Regions from separate parts of the Homo sapiens genome. Here regions 1 and 3 are each linked to region 2. The links come from fine-mapping of genetic effects on plasma protein levels. Region 2 holds a variant in brackets. A gene starts in each other region. All regions are shown on their forward strands.

The links. A credible set is the group of variants that fine-mapping cannot tell apart. PIP is the chance, under the fine-mapping model, that this variant and not a neighbour inherited with it causes the effect. Protein levels are from antibody-based Olink assays in UK Biobank. Linkage for the fine-mapping came from a reference panel and not from the study's own genotypes, which makes the PIPs less certain.
Region 1: ANPEP starts here. The variant in region 2 is the best candidate, but not a certain one, in a credible set for the plasma level of the ANPEP protein (UK Biobank, PIP 0.86).
Region 3: COQ7 starts here. The variant in region 2 is the best candidate, but not a certain one, in a credible set for the plasma level of the COQ7 protein (UK Biobank, PIP 0.58).

The regions. Positions count from the first base shown.
Region 1 is chr15:89,813,502-89,818,804 of GRCh38, forward strand. It overlaps ANPEP (alanyl aminopeptidase, membrane), which reads right to left and starts at 1,351. Exons shown (of 21, transcript NM_001150.3): 1 at 1,271-1,351. RefSeq lists an enhancer at 920-1,419, promoters at 1,287-2,441, 1,287-1,775 and cis regulatory regions at 1,390-1,395, 1,647-1,775, 1,683-1,686, 1,685-1,714, 1,732-1,734.
Region 2 is chr4:145,897,482-145,902,481 of GRCh38, forward strand. ZNF827 (zinc finger protein 827) reads right to left here. Exons shown (of 15, transcript NM_001306215.2): 2 at 4,685-5,000. Among named protein-coding and RNA genes, the nearest start is that of ZNF827, 39 kb to the right of the region's middle. The variant C/A (reference allele first, on the strand shown) is at 2,777.
Region 3 is chr16:19,064,797-19,069,796 of GRCh38, forward strand. COQ7 (coenzyme Q7, hydroxylase) reads left to right here and starts at 2,818. Exons shown (of 6, transcript NM_016138.5): 1 at 2,818-2,941. The coding sequence starts at 2,869. COQ7-DT (COQ7 divergent transcript) reads right to left here and starts at 2,895. Exons shown (of 3, transcript NR_119381.1): 1 at 2,785-2,895. RefSeq lists a silencer at 2,842-3,001 and an enhancer at 3,032-3,181.

The DNA.
Region 1 (5,303 bases), not on the chromosome of region 2:
TGCACTCATAGTGTGGCCTTCGAGGCTAGGGCTCCACAGGAAGGTGGCTGAGAGTGGATGAGGGCCTCATGGGCCCAGCACACCCTCCCACAGGGAGAGGGGAGTCCACCCTCTTCCCTGCCCAGCTCCCCCATACCCACTGGGGCTAGCCAGCCTTCCTGTGGGACAGAGGCTGTCCCCACTTCCTCCTGGTCACCCCTACCCCACACGCCCACCTCCCCTCCACAAAACACATACCCTGAGGGGCCCTCTGGTCCAAGCCTCCCCTTTCACAGGTGAATTAACTGAGGCCCAGTAAGGCCAGGGCGTTTAGAGACTCAGGGATGAAGCCACATCAGACCTCAGGTCTGGCTGAGACCAGGGCTCTGACCACCCCCGAACACGGCCTGGTGGGTTGCAGTCCAGGGGCTGAGGTGGGGGAGGAGTGGGGATCCAGTCACAAAACCCCAGGACATAGCCCACCTGGGCCGTCCCTGCCCACCGCACTGCTGGGGGGGGGGGGTGCGTTCTGGAGTCATTTGGGGAAAGGATCCCATTGGCCCTGTTTAGGGGACCTTTTCCCAGACCAAGAGTGGATTGCAATGGGGCCCTGGATCTGTCTCAGTTGCTCACCAGGGAGGGCGTGGAATAGGCTCCACAACCCCCAAACCTCGGTCCCCATCCATGCCCCGGCATCTTGGCCGGGTTGTAGGAGCGAGGGAGAACGCGACTGTAACGCGGGCGTTGAGCACCTAGAGTTCCCCTTCCTCTTCACTGAGAGCTGCGGCGGAGGCTTTAGACCGAGGAGCGAGATCTAAGGTTAAAGAAAGGGCCTCTGAGCCCAGTGTTGGCCAGAGACCCCACAGGCGGGCCGGGTTCGCCCTTTGCCTTCGGCCGCGCCCCACCCACCAGGGACAGAGTGGCCGCGGCCGAGCCGGGTCCACCCGCCGCAGCTTAGCTCCGCTCCGCCGCCCTCCCCGTCCGTCCTCCCCAGGCTCCCGTCGCCCTCGCCCACCCTGGGGCCCCCTCCCCAGATGGGAGCCCCTCCGACCCCTGCGAGGCCCGCTGGGGACCCACTTGACCGCGAGATCGTAGTGGGAGCTCGGCCAAAAGAATTCTTCGCTTTCCCTGGCCCTCAGTTTACCCATCTGGGAAGAGGGGCGTCGCGGCCGCAGAAGTCCAGCTCCGCACGCGCCAAGCGCTGGGTCTGCAGCTCCCTCGGTTCCCGCGCACCCAACTGCCCCACGACCCCTACCCGCGCCCGCAGCCCCCGCCCTCCCGCCCCACTTGCCTGGGCCGCCGGGCGCTGGAACCTGGACCCTGGACCCTGGCGGGTTCCGAGCTGCGCCGCCGCCGTCCCTGCCCCTCCAGCACTGGACTCCTCCTTTCCCGTCTTTTTAAAGGGAAGTAACCGGACCCGACCACTACTCCACCCGATTCACCCCTAGCGGGCCGCCCGCCCGCAGCTCCGCCCGGGCTCCTCCCCCGTCCGCCCGCGGCTTCCCGGGAGCCCCCCAGGGCTCCTCCGCTCCTCCGACGGCCCGGCCTTCCCCCCGGGGCCTGGGATGCACCAGGGCTCCTGCTGCCCCCGACGGGGTCCCTGTCGCCGCAGCCCGCGGGACCCGCCGGCCACATCTGGACGGCATCTGCCGCGGGGGAGGGGCTCAGAGCCTCGCCCTGAGTGTCCCGCAGGGAGCCTTGTGCATCCGGGGCAGGAAGCCAGCGCATCCCGTGCAGACGGGTGGTGCAGATAACGGACCCGCCACAGCACGCAATTCAACTTTCTTGGTACCTGGGACTCGTAGTTCAGAAGGCGCAGTAGCACGACCTTGCGAAAAAGCACCGGAGTCGGGAACACGCGCTTCTCATTTTTTTCTTTTTCCTTTATTTGTTTTTGAGACAGAGTCTCGCTCTGTCGCTCACGCTGGAGTGCAGTGGCACTTTCTCCGCTCACTGCAACTTCCTCCTCCTGGGTTCAAGCGATTCTCCTGCCTCAGCCTCCCGAGTAGCTGGGACTACAGGTGCACGCCACCACGCCTGGTTAATTTTTGGAGTTTTAGTAGAGACAGGGTTTCACCATGTAAGGCTCGTCTCGAACTCCTGACCTCAAGTGATCCGCCCGCCTTGGCCTCCCAAAGTGCTGAGATTACAGGAGTGAGCCACCACACCTGGCCTGCGCCTCTCATCTTGATCCTGCTTGCAGAGGTTGTGCAGCCACCGGAGCCCCGCCAGGGTGGGGCTCCCTGTCTCTGAGCAGCTTTAATGGGCGGTACCAGATAATATTTGTATTGGTTCCCTGTGGCTGCCGTAACACAAACATAAAACAACACTAATTTACTATCTTACAAGTTTTGTAAAATCAGAAGTCCAAAATGGGTCTCGCTGGACTAAAAGCAAGGGGGTTGAGGGATACAGCTTTCTTGAGGCTGGAAGGGAACCTGTTTCTTTGGCTTTTCTGGCTTCTAGAAGCTGCCCACATTCCTTGGCTGGTGGCCCCATCCATCTTCAAAGCCAGCAGTGGCCCACCAGTCTCTCACAATCTGTCACTCTGACACCAACTGTTCTGCCTCTTGCTTCCACTGGTGAGCATCTTTGTGATTACATCGGGCCTACCCAGATAATCCAGGGTAATCTTTCTATTTTAAATCAATGGATTGGCAACTTGAATTCCACCTGCAACTGTAATTTCCCTTCGTGGGGTAGCATAACATATTCACAGATTCTGGGCATTAGAACCAGGGCATCTTTTGAGGAGGAGGATATGATTATGTCTACCACAATATTCAAGCTGACTTCCAGACTTTCAGATTTATAATCAAATTTAAGCTCTTCCTTATCCATGATTGGAATCCTTGGGACAGTTAAAGCCTTGCACTGCATGGTCCAAATTGATGGCTTTGTGACTGGCTGTGTTTTATTATTTTACTTGCACTTGCTCTTCTTTTGGAAACTTCATGGAGGACCAGGGTACCTCTAGGTAGCAGCCTTGCTTCTCCTTCCTAATTTGCTCTGTACTCTTAAAAACCAGGTCACAAACATATCGGAATATAGAATTGTGTGTAAAGTAAGAGTAAGTAGGCTGTGAGTGAGACCTCAGAGGCTATTTTGTTTTTTTTCTCTCTCCAGTCTCATGCATGTCTGACTCTCTCCACTATCATATCTGGCATAATCTCCTCCATGTCTGACAAGCCAAGGAAAACACTACATCAGGCCAGGAGAGAATCTTCCCCCCGGAGCTCTGCCTCTCCCACCCAGGCTCCGCGGAGATTTTAAGAGGAGTAAAGATCCTGCTGTGGCAGAAGTGCAACCCAGCTTTCTGGAGGGCAGTTTGGGGTTAGGAATGAAGATCACTTTCAGAAATTTAGCCTGAAGAGGCTGGGCGTGGTGGCTCATGCCTGTAAGGCAGGTGGATCACTTGAGGTCGGGAATTCAAGGCCAGCCTGGGCAACCTGGTGAAACTGTGTCTGTACTAAAACACAAAAATCAGCCAGGTGTGGTGGCGCATGCCTGTGGTCCCACCTACTTGGGAGGCTGAGGCACGAGAATCGCTTGAACCTGGGAGGCAGAGGCTTCAGTGAGCTGAGATCACATGACTGCACTCCAGCCTCGACTACAGAGCAAGACTGTCTCAAAAAAATAAATAAATTTAGCCTAAGGAAATAGAATATTTATATGCAAGGCTTTTCACTGCAGTATTACTTATAATACTGGAAAATCAGAAATAGCCTAAGTGGGCTGGGCGTGGTGGCTCATGCTTGTAATCCCAGCACTTTGGGAGGCCAAGGCAGGCAGATTACGAGGTCAGGAGTTCGAGACCAGCCTGGCCAATGCAGTGAAACCCTGTCTCTACTAAAAATACAAAAATTGGGTGGGCATGGTGGTGGGTGCCTGTAATCCCAGCTACTGGGGAGGTTGAGGCAGGAGAATCGCTTGAACCCGGGAGGTGGAGGTTGCAGTGAGCCGAGATTGCGCCACTACACTCCAGCCTGGGTAACAGAGAGAGACTCTGTCCACCCCCTGTGAAAAAAAAGATGAAGAGACAGTGCTTGCTCCTGCAGAAAGAAAATTCATGGGCTCATAAACATGTAAAAAGATGTTCAATAACTCACTTATTAAGAAAATGAAAATTATAACTACAAAAGATACTATTCTTCACTTACCAGATCAGCAAAGATAAAAAGCAGTTTGGTAGGTCAGGCACAGTGGCTCATGTCTGTAATTCCAGCACTTTGGGAGGCTGAGGCAGGAGAATCACTTAAAACCAGGTGTTCGAGACCAGCCTGGGCCACGTGGCAAAACCCTGTCTCTACCAAAAAAAAAAAATTAGCCAGGCGTGGTGGCACGTGCCTGTAGTCCCAGCTACTTGGAAGAATGAGGTGGGAGGATTGCTTGAGCCTGAAAAGTCAAGGCTGCAGTGAGCCATGATCGTGTCACTGCACTCCAGCCAGAGCGATAGAGTGAGTCCCTGTCTCAAAAAAAAAAAAAAAAGTTTGGTAACACACTATTCGCAAGGGTGGGAGGAAAACAGGCAACCCCCTGCATTGCTGGTTGGTGTGTAGACTGACTCGACCTCAAAAGAGAATATTTGGGCAGTATTTATCAAACATATAAACACATGTCCTGTTTGACTTGGCACTTCCAGAAATTTATCCTACAGATAATGCTCACACGTAAGTGAAAGGAATACACAAGGCTTTCCACTGCATCGCTGCAACATTGAGCCAAAACCACAATGACTTTTGCACCAATCTAATAGCTGGAGACAACCTAAATGTCCACCAATAGAGATGGGATAAATGAATGATTATTGTATGCCCTGCAATGGAATGCATATGGCTATCAAAAATAACTAGGATTCTCCTTACAGAACGCTCCCCAGGACAGGTTGTTTAGTAATAAAACCTAGACGCAGAGCCGTGTTCAAGTCGTTTATCAATTGTACTTAAATGGAAAAAGCACAGAGACACACAATTTGCTTTTATATGTGCACGCGCTGATAACACGAGTTGTTTCCCAGGAAGGAAACTGGAGCTGGAGAACAGGGTGGGAAACGCATTTTTCAGCATATCCTTTTGTTCTCTTGAATCTTGAACCATGTGAATACCGTGTCTAATCAAAATATAAATAAAATTAAAAGTGAAGACGAAAGACCAGAAGATTAACAGGCTTTATAATATAATTTTTTTTTTGAGATGGAATTTTGCTCTTGTTGCCCAGGCTGGAGTGCAATGGCGCAATCTTGGCTCACTGCAACCTCCGCCTCCTGGGTTCAAGCGATTCTCCTCCCTCAGCCTTCCGAGTAGCTGGAATTACAGGCGTGTGCT
Region 2 (5,000 bases):
CCATTCTGGACCTACTAACATTACCGGTACACATCTGTGTAGGATGACGACCTATCTTCCTTCCTAACAATACACATGGACTTTAAATCTTTTAACAGAATTTCTTTGTTATGTGTCTCAAATGCTATTTCATGGCAACAAAAAAAGCCTAGGTTAGCAATGGATGTCCCTGGGTTTATCTGTTATTATGGATGCTGACTTTATTAATGCCTATTTTAACTAGTAAATATTCAGAGAAGTCTGATATCTATAGCCATACTAAGTTTAAATCACTGCGAAAATACAATTGAGATTAATGACGGACAGTTCTAAAAATCTAGGTTAAAAAGTGAATTTTCTAAACAAGTTCATATATGGGATCATTCTCAGATTAAGGCTTATTGAGACTTATGGCCGGGTCCTGTGCTTCATGCCTGTAATCCCAGCACTTTGGGGGCCTGAGTAGGGTGGATCACTTGAGGCCAGAAGTTCGAGACCAGCCTTACTAACATGGCGAAACCCCATCTCTACTAAAAATACAAAAATTAGTCGGGTGTGGTGGTGCATGCCTGTAGTCCCAGCTTCTCAGGAGGCTCAGGCACAAGAATTGCTTGAACCCGGGAGGCGGAGGCTGCAGTGAGCCGAGATCGCACCACCGCACTCTAGCCTGGGCTATAGAGCCAGACGCTGTCACAAACAAAAGATTTATTATAATAACCACGGGCCTAATGGGAGTATCAGGAGAGGTGATCTCCCTCTCCGGACTTTGTATGCTTTTGCAATAATTTTAATAACATCACATAAATATTAAAGAAAACAGCAGCCAGAAACCCCCTATGTATTGACCCACAGGAAATATTCTTAGTTCTCAGCTGTATGAGACCAGGTTTGCTTCTAAGAATATTTACATTTTATTCAGTACAATAAGATGTTTTGGAGACCCTCTCTCTGAAACTCTCCCTGTTATTTCTTTTAAACAGGAGTCTGGCATCCTGGGAATCTTGTTGGCCTTCTACAAGAAACTTTGTCTTTAAAATAAAAACCATTTATTTTATTCTTAGCTGCAACAGAACAGTAGCTTCAAAGAGAATTCAGTCAATGTGTGACATTTATCTTTATAGCAAACGGACATAATCTTCCCTCTATCGTGTCCCCTTTCAGAGGAGCCGTGTAGCATGTGCTGGGGGCGCAGGGTCACATGAAAGAAACCTCCCCCTCAAGTGTCACGTCTCTCTTGCAGGGCGGAAAGGCTATCGAGTGGTGGACTCTTAAGGAATTAAATACACCATGACCTGGCAACCACTGAATCCTGTTCAAAAAAGAAGAATAAGGCCAAACCTAAAAGACAATTTTTTTTTCATGGTTTGGACTTCCCTTGACCTAAAGAAGGTCAAAGAAATGGTGGTGTCTAAATTACTCAAGGCGGGATCAGCTTTTCTAGCACATATCTCTTTGTAACTTAAGAATCAACTTTATATGCTTTTTTCTTGCGCATTTTGAGAAATCGCTTTTTAAAAATGAAAGCCCTGCCTGAAATCAGGATGGTGTGTAGTTTATTTTTGTGGCTTTTTGTTGTTGTTCTTGGGGGCGGTTATTATTTGTTTACTTAAGTCATTAGGCAACAGAAACTCTTTTCCCTGCTGTGAGAGGCCAATGCACCTACGTATTTTGAATTAAACTAAGATTTCCTTCTAAGGGAGAGGAAAGAATAATAATGACAAATGTTCCCATACAGGGGTGATGACTCTCACCACATTTCCATAATGCTTCTTAGATAAATCGAAGGTACATCCCAATCCAGCCCCAGGTGGCCCCCAAACCAACAGTATAATGTGTGGAAGGTGGGGGAGGGAGGGGGAGGGAAGAAAAGGGAGTTGGGGAGGGTAGAGGGGACAGATGGAGATGATCCACCTTTCCTTCCACTCCTCAGATGCCAAAATCAGTGATCCCCAGTAACACCAAATCATGTACCCATGATACAAAGACAAATAACAAAATTAGATACTCTGTGAACTCCTTATTAACCCATAATCTAGCTAGGCTGCTGGGAAGTGATGACATTCACTTTAACTGAAAAGAGTGAGGGCATCCCCTCTTCTGTTTCCAAGCCATGCAATAACAAACAGAACTTGAACGTAGGATGGGCCCACGTGGACGTATGGAATATTTTTCGGGTAACAATTTCAAGGACCCTCATTTTCTTGGCAGTGATCTTTCCTCATGCATGAGTTTTACAAAATGAAAGATTTTTTAAATAAAATTACTCTGCTGATGAAGCTGCTTCTTCAAGTCTTAGACTGAACAGAGGCATGTTGAAATGGGAGAGTTGGGGTGGGGAGGCCTTAGGTACAAGTCAATCAGCACAGGGTTCTATAACCCAAAGCTGAGAAGTTCCTTTCCCTCCTCTTTCAGTTTGAACATTCTGAACATCCCTTGATTAAAATATTAAGTGTTTCAGCAATATAATAAATATAGTAAAAAGCAAAGTAAGAAACGATTTCTTATAGATCTCCCATATTCAATTATTCTGAGAACCCCACTGAGTTGCTGGCATAGATTAAGTGTATTTAAACCAAAAAGGAACATAGCTTTTCCCTTGGGTGTATTTCCCACAACAAAACAAACAAAAAGTCTACCATTCACTGGAAGCTCATGACCTCTTTCTCATCTTTACATGTATCTGGTCGTTTGAGTGAAAAAAATTATATTCACAACCATTGCTGGTTATACCGGAGACTTCAATATGACAAAGCTGCTACAGTCTGGGCTTCAGGAAACATGGTTTTATCAGTCACTT[C/A]TTTCCAAGTCTTCAATCAACTAAAGTTTATTATTAACTTTGCATAAGCTTTCCCAACTAACAAATGTCCAGATGAATTGTATACTAGAAACGCCATTCACACATTTATTCAATAACTAGATATGCAGAATATACATATATATAATTATTATTTTCTTTTTTTTATTTTTATTTTTTTGAGACAGAGTCTCATCCAGGCTGGACTGCAGTGACACGATCTCAGCTCACTGCAACCTCTGCCTCCCGGGTTCAAGCAATTCTCCTGCCTCAGCCTCCCAAGTAGCTGGGATTACAGGCGCACACCACCACGCCTGGTTAATTTTTGTATTTTTAGTAGAGACGGAGTTTCACCATATTGGTCAGGATGGTCTTGACCCCCTGACCTCAGGTGACCCACCCGCCTTGGCCCCTCAAAGTGCTAGGATTACAGGTGTGAGCCACTGCGCCCGGCCTAAAATTTTATTTTATATACAGCCATACCTCTCTTTCTACTGCTATCCCTAAATGAAATTTCTATAAGTCAGGAGTGATTTTTTCCATCGTAGAACTACCCCAGCCTCCTTTGCTCTTCTCCTTGTTTCCTAATTTTACCCATTTCTCTCCTTATTTCACCAGATGGCAGGTGAGAAGAGAGGAGAAGTGGAACTTAGAATTGACAACATCCTAGGATTTTACTGACATTTCAGAAACTCTGGAGAGAACAGTTTGGATCACCAAGAGTCATAAAAGTCCCAGATACCCATTTTCCTCGTTGTCTTCTGCTGTTGACTCAAGTTTTGAAGTACTTATAATTAGTGAATATAGCTCACTCAGCCATTTAAATGGAAATTTGTCATAAATGCATCAAATTGACATTAACTGTGATCGTTCCGTCAATTATTTGCCATTCCAAACCCTCTTCATCATTGTTGCTGAAAATAATCAAAAGTTGGCTAGACACACACGATGGCAATGTTTGTACCGATGAGGATGCACATAGCCTACTTCCTGCTCCAGTCTGGCAGGATATCCTTAAGAGACATCTGAAACCCCAACACGCATCCCAGGAACGTGTATTTATCATGTACACAATTTTAAAGCAAACCAGAACAAGAAATGGTGTTTCCACTGTGAGAATTCAAGTGACTAAATTTCTCCCTCAGATGAATAATTGTGAATGCTAAGGTCCTATATGACAGCGATTTCTCCTTTGGAAAGACTGCCTCCACTAGAAAAACCTTAGGATTCAAATTTTCCACATGCACATTCCTTCAAAATTGGATTGGATTTGAATTAAATAAAGCATTCACAGGAAATGTGTTGATTATGTTTGATTGACAATCTTTTTGAGTTCTTATAGGACAAGAAATTGTAGGAGAATAGGATACGTGAAAAGGGCTTAAATTCCACAAAAAGTAATAAAAATGCTAACATAAAAGTATATGGTGTGATAAATTAGGGCAGAGTAGTTCCTGATTGTACAAAAGTCCATTTGTGATGGAGGCAGCAGGAGTGTGGGCTCTCCCTTGTCCACTATTTCAAAAGCAGTGGGTTTTTTTCCCCTTATGTTCAGTGATGCCATGCACTCCATGACAAAGATGCTTTGATCTTCTCCCATTAAATATATCTTGTATGGACCTAGCCTGAACTTAGTAAGAAAAAAAAATCATTTGTATGAAAGGGAGGGAATGCTGTATGTCTCTAAGATTATTCATTACCTTTCAAAAGTGAAGCTATTTGTGAAGTCTTTGTGTAATACGTACATGAAAGACTACTATGCTGCTTACTTAAAGTATTTTTGTTGTGCTCTTGCTTTTTTATTCCTGCCTCAGATCAGATGGGGAACCCAACTGAAAAAAGCAATGAATAAGACATCGCAGTTTATAGTCTAAAGGACTTACACGATGATTGAAAGAAAAGATGCCATACCTGAATTGGAGGGTTTAGAAACTCTTCCCTTAGGAACTGGGAGTAATAATAATTCCAGGGATTGTGGTGGTGGTGGTGGAGGTGGTGGAGGTGGCGGTGGAGGTGGCGGAGTGACTTTTTCTGGTTTCTTCTCTGAAGGCGGGGGCGGTAGAGGGTCCTCAGGCAGCAGCGATGATTTCTCAGCCAGAAGACTGCCCGCAGCCCTTGCGGCCACCTCCTTCAGAAGGGCCGCTGAGGAGGTCATAGAAGCCAGGGAAAGGAAGGAGCTGGCCGGTGGAGGGTGCTCCTGACCAGGAGTCAAACTTCTTTCACTGAC
Region 3 (5,000 bases), not on the chromosome of region 2:
CTACAGGCGCCCACCACCACACCCGGCTAATTTTTTGTATTTTTAATAGAGACAGGGTTTCATCAGGATGGTCTTGATCTCCTGACCTCATGATCTGCCCGCCTCGGCCTCCCAAAGTGCTGGGATTACAGGCGTGAGCCACTGTGCCTGGCTGTGTTTTTTTTTTTTTTTTTTTTTGAGATGTAGTCTCACTCTATTGCCCAGGCTGGAGTGCAGTAGTGCGATCTCGGCTCACTGCAACCTGGGTTCAAGTGATTCTCCTGCCTCAGCCTCCCAAGTAGCTGGGACTACAGGTGTGTGCCACCATGCCCAGCTAATTTTTGTACTTTTAGTAGAGATGGGGTTTTGCCCTGTTGGTCAGGCTGGTCTTGAACTGCTGACCTCAAGTGATCCTTCCACTTCGGCCTCCCAAAGTCTGGGATTACAGGGGTGAGCCTCCGTGCCTGGCTGGAACTAGTTTTTTTAATGGATAATTTGGTGGGTAGGGGGATGGAATTAGGGAATAGTATGCATTTTTGTTTTTTAAATTTTGTTTTGCCATTATAAAAATACTTGTTTTTTATAGCAAATACAGAGAACATCAAAAGCAACAGAGAAAAAAACTTAAAAAGCAGCACTTATGGGCACGCACTGTTAATCCTGGCAAAATTCTTTTTAAGATAGAAAGTACAGAGGGAGGGAAAAAGAAGGAAAAAGAAGGAAAGAACTTTGGTATTCTAATTTCTTTTTCACTTAATATGTGTTTTCCTGAAGAATCTAGTGTTTTCTCCTGTTATTAAAAGCTCTTTACAAACATTTCAATGGGCTACATAACATCATACAGTTGGATTTTTTTTTTTTTTTTTGAGCCAGAGTCTAGGTCTATCACCCACTCTGGAGTGCAGTGGTGTGATCATGGCTCAGTGCAGCCTCAACCTCCTGGGCTCAAGTGATCCTTTTAGCCTCACAAGTAGGTGGGATCAGAGGCACACACCACCATGCCTGACTAATTTTTAAAATTTTTTGTAGAGATGGAATCTCACTGTGTTGCCCAGGCTGGTCTTGAACTCCTGGGCTCAAGTGATCCTCTCGCCTCAGTCTCCCAAAGTGTTGGGATTACAGGCGTGAGCCACTGCACTCGGACATGATGTTTTGATATTCAATTGTTGCTTAACATTTTGTTTCCAAATTTTCCCAGTAATAAATAATGGGCACATCTATAAATCTTTGTCAACATTTTTTCTCCTTAGAAACAGAGACCTAGGCCAGGCGTGGCGGCTCACGCCTATAATCCCAGCACTTTGGGAGGACAAGGTGGGAGGATCACTTGAGGTCAGGAATTTGAGACCAGCCTGGCCAACACAGCGAAACCCAGTCTCAGCTGGGCGTGGTGGTGTGTGTACCTGTAATCCCATCTACTTGGGAGGCTGAGGCAGGAGAATCGCTTGAACCCGGGAGGCAGAGGTTCCAGTGAGCCAAGGTCTCCCCACTGCAATCCAGCCTGTGCGACAGAGTGAAACTCCATTTAAAAAGAACAAAAACAAAAAACAAAACAAAAAGGAAACAGAGACCTAGAAGTGGTATTACAGCAAAGGTTTTGAACATTTTAAGGCTTTTGAGCGCCAGATTCAGACACTCAGTAGTTTTACATGAGAGTGCTACAACATCCTCACTAAGTAGTATTTGGGTTCATCATAATTTTAAATTATTTTGGTGTGTCAATTTGAACACTAGAGTGATATAAAAACTAAAAACTTGAATTCAATAATTTTACAATTGTATTCCATCTTAAAATATTTTATGGTAAACTTGGATAAAGTATATAAATAATCCAAGGGTGTAAAGTAGAAAGTGAAAGCTCCCTTCTCCCAGTTCCAGCCCCCTGATGTTGCCAATATTAAACGTTGTATATCCTTGCAGACACGCATCTTTGATTTTTGCCCTCATGTACATTACTCATTTAAAAATTATTTCGTTGAGTAGATTCCTAAAAGTAAGACTGCTGTATTATATGATCTTTTTAAAGTATGTTGCTAAATTTCCCCTCCCTTCTCAAAAAATTCCAATTTGCACAAATATACATGCATACATGCACACAGTACATTAAGGTGGATACCAAGGATAAAACATGTTCTCTGTTTCTGAAAATAGAGAAAAGACCGGGAAGAAGTTTAAAGTTGGCTTTCAGCCCACCAATAGAGATAACACTATATAACACCATTAACCATGTGGTGCATGTAATTTAGATATACATATAATTTTATTTATTTATTTATTTTTCAGACAGGGCCCAGGCTAGAGTGCAGTGGCAGAATCACGGCTGACTGCAGCCTCGAGCTACCGGGCTCAAGCTATCCCCCCACCTCAGCCTCCCGAGTAGCTGGGACTACAGGTGTGCTCCACCAGACCCGGCTAATTTTTAAAATTATTTGTAGAGGCGGGGTCTCGCTATGTTGCCCAGGCTTACTATTTTAAAGTAGATGTAGGATACAAATAAAAAAAAAAATCTCCTTCCACGTAGGTAAAGCAGGAAATACCGTGCCTTGTTAATAAGTAATTCCCTCATGATCCTTTTCCCCAGGAACTTGGGTGAGAAATCATAACCTTGTCCTGATCTTTCTAAACAGCAATTTAGCATTTTCATCTCCCTGGCAACCCAAGGCGCCTTGGCCTTGGTCTTCCGAGTGATTGACAGTGACCCCACCCAATAAAATCTTTTTATTTGTCGTATCTAACCAATCTAACCCCTAGCGCAGAGCTAGGGGGCGTTCCCACCGGTGCGCGGGCGAGCTGAGCCTTCCTTACGTCTGCTGTGCGTCATCAGTCCGAGCCAAGGGCACTATTGGCCAGTTCCGTTCAACGAAGTGGTTGCTTTTTTTAGTTCCGGCAATGAGTTGCGCCGGGGCGGCGGCGGCTCCCCGCCTTTGGCGGCTGCGCCCGGGGGCCCGGCGGTCCCTCTCAGGTAAAAGGAGGCGCGCAGTCACAGTCCTGCGCCGGTCTAGCGAGCTAGGGAATTTTCGCTTGAGGTTTGGGTCGAAGAGGTCACGGGGGAGAGGTTCGTAACGTCACAGGCCTGCGACGGAGCGCGACTGCGTGACTTCGGCCTCCGGGGCGCTGGCGGGCGGGGCGGGGTCTGTAGTTAGCGGCGAGAGTGACAGGAGGACAGGGGTTGTTTCGGCAGTGACGCCTGGGGAGTGACGCAATTGCACCCCTGTGCAGTGATGTCACGGCAGGTGCGGCCAGCGTTCCGAGTCGAGGACAGTTGGCGACACTGAAAATTCAGCGTCTCCGGGAGTCTCTCTCTTTGTAGTCTTTGCCCAGGGCCTTGCCAGGCAAAGGGTAGCCCGACGACCAGCAGCCTCCGCTACTTCTGGGCGCTCGCTAGAAATACAGATTCTCGGGCCCCACCCCGACCTACTTGGTCGGTATCTGTGATCTGTGAACAGGACCTTTAGGTGATTTGCATGCACTGTAAACTGTGAAAGCCATCAGTGTAGTGGAAGGAGCATCGAATTTAGAGTAGAGAGACATGGTTTTGGACCCTGGTTCCTGCTTTCCTTGTTTCATCTGTGCTGCCTTAGAAAATTGTCATGAGCCCGGGCGCGGTGGCTCCGGCCTATAATCTCAGCACTTTGGGAGGCCGAGGCTGGAGGATCCCCTGAGGTCAGGAGTTTGAGACCAGCCTGGCCAACATGGTGAAACCCCGCCTCTACTAAAAATACAAAAATTTGCCAGGCGTGATGGCAGGTGCCTGTAATCCCAGCTACTCAGGAGGCTGAGACAGGAGAATCGCTTGAACCCGGGAGGCAGAGATTGCTTTGAGGCGAGATTGCACCACTGCACTGCAACCTGGGCGTCAGAGCGAGACTTTGTCTCCCCCGCGCAAAAAAAAAAAAAAAAAAGAAATTTCATGAAGTCGTTTTCTCAACGTTAAATTACCGTGTACCACTTTCGGGATTTTTGCCTAATGGCAGTACTGCTTGAACTTTTGATTACTAGATGTGTTTTTTTGTATAGCTATGTCCCATTTAAAAATTAAATTAATTTCCTTGAAACAAAATCCTTATGGTGAATGGGAAGCCAGTGCCACTTGCCACAAATGGGTGAGTAATCATTAAAAAAAAACAAACAAATTAAAAAGTTATGAAATTGTATTAAATACTGTCTTTCTGTTACAAAGGGGAAATTAGCAAGTGTTGGGAAAGTGTTAAGGCTATACCAGCTGTAAATGGAGTTATCTTCCTTAATGAAAGAGATTGCAAGAGATTTTGAAAGAGTACCCCTTACTACATGGGGTTATTTGCTGCATATCCATAAGCCACTTAATATTTTGTAGGTACCACACTGGCATGTTTCACACTTTGGGAAAATATGGACATAAAGTGATGCATTTGAGAGCTAGCACCGAGCCTCAATTTTACTTTAAAGTATATGGTAATGCAGGCAAAACTCCGAGGGTTGTTGAATGTGAATTTTAATGCTGCTCTGTTCAGCCAGTGAGCATAACAGAATAAGACTCATTTCTGTTTATAAAGTTACTTTGCTTCTTATATCTTATTTTATCCTCATAACTCAGTAAGAAAAGTTTATTATTGTATGTTTTCCCTTAAAAAGGAAAGAGCCTGATTATTGCCTTTTTTTTTTTTTTTTTTTGAGGCAGAGTCTTGCTTTGTCGCCCAGGCTGGAGTGCAGTGGCGCGATCTCAGCTCACTGCAACCTCCGCCTCCTGGGTTCAAGTGATTCTCCTGCCTCAGACTCCCGAGTAGCTGAGGCTGCATGCATGCACCACCACGCCTGGCTAATTTTTGAATTTTTGGTAGAGACGGGGTTTCGCCATGATGACCAGGCTGGTCTCGAACTCCTGACCTCAAGTGATTCTCCCTCCTTGGCTTCCCAAAGTGCTGGGATTACAGGCGTGAGTCGCCGCACCCAGCCAATTTTATATGTAAGAAATGTCGATCCTGATTTTCCCAAGGCTAGTGTTAGAGATGGGACACATGTTTTATGCTTCTTTTTTTCTT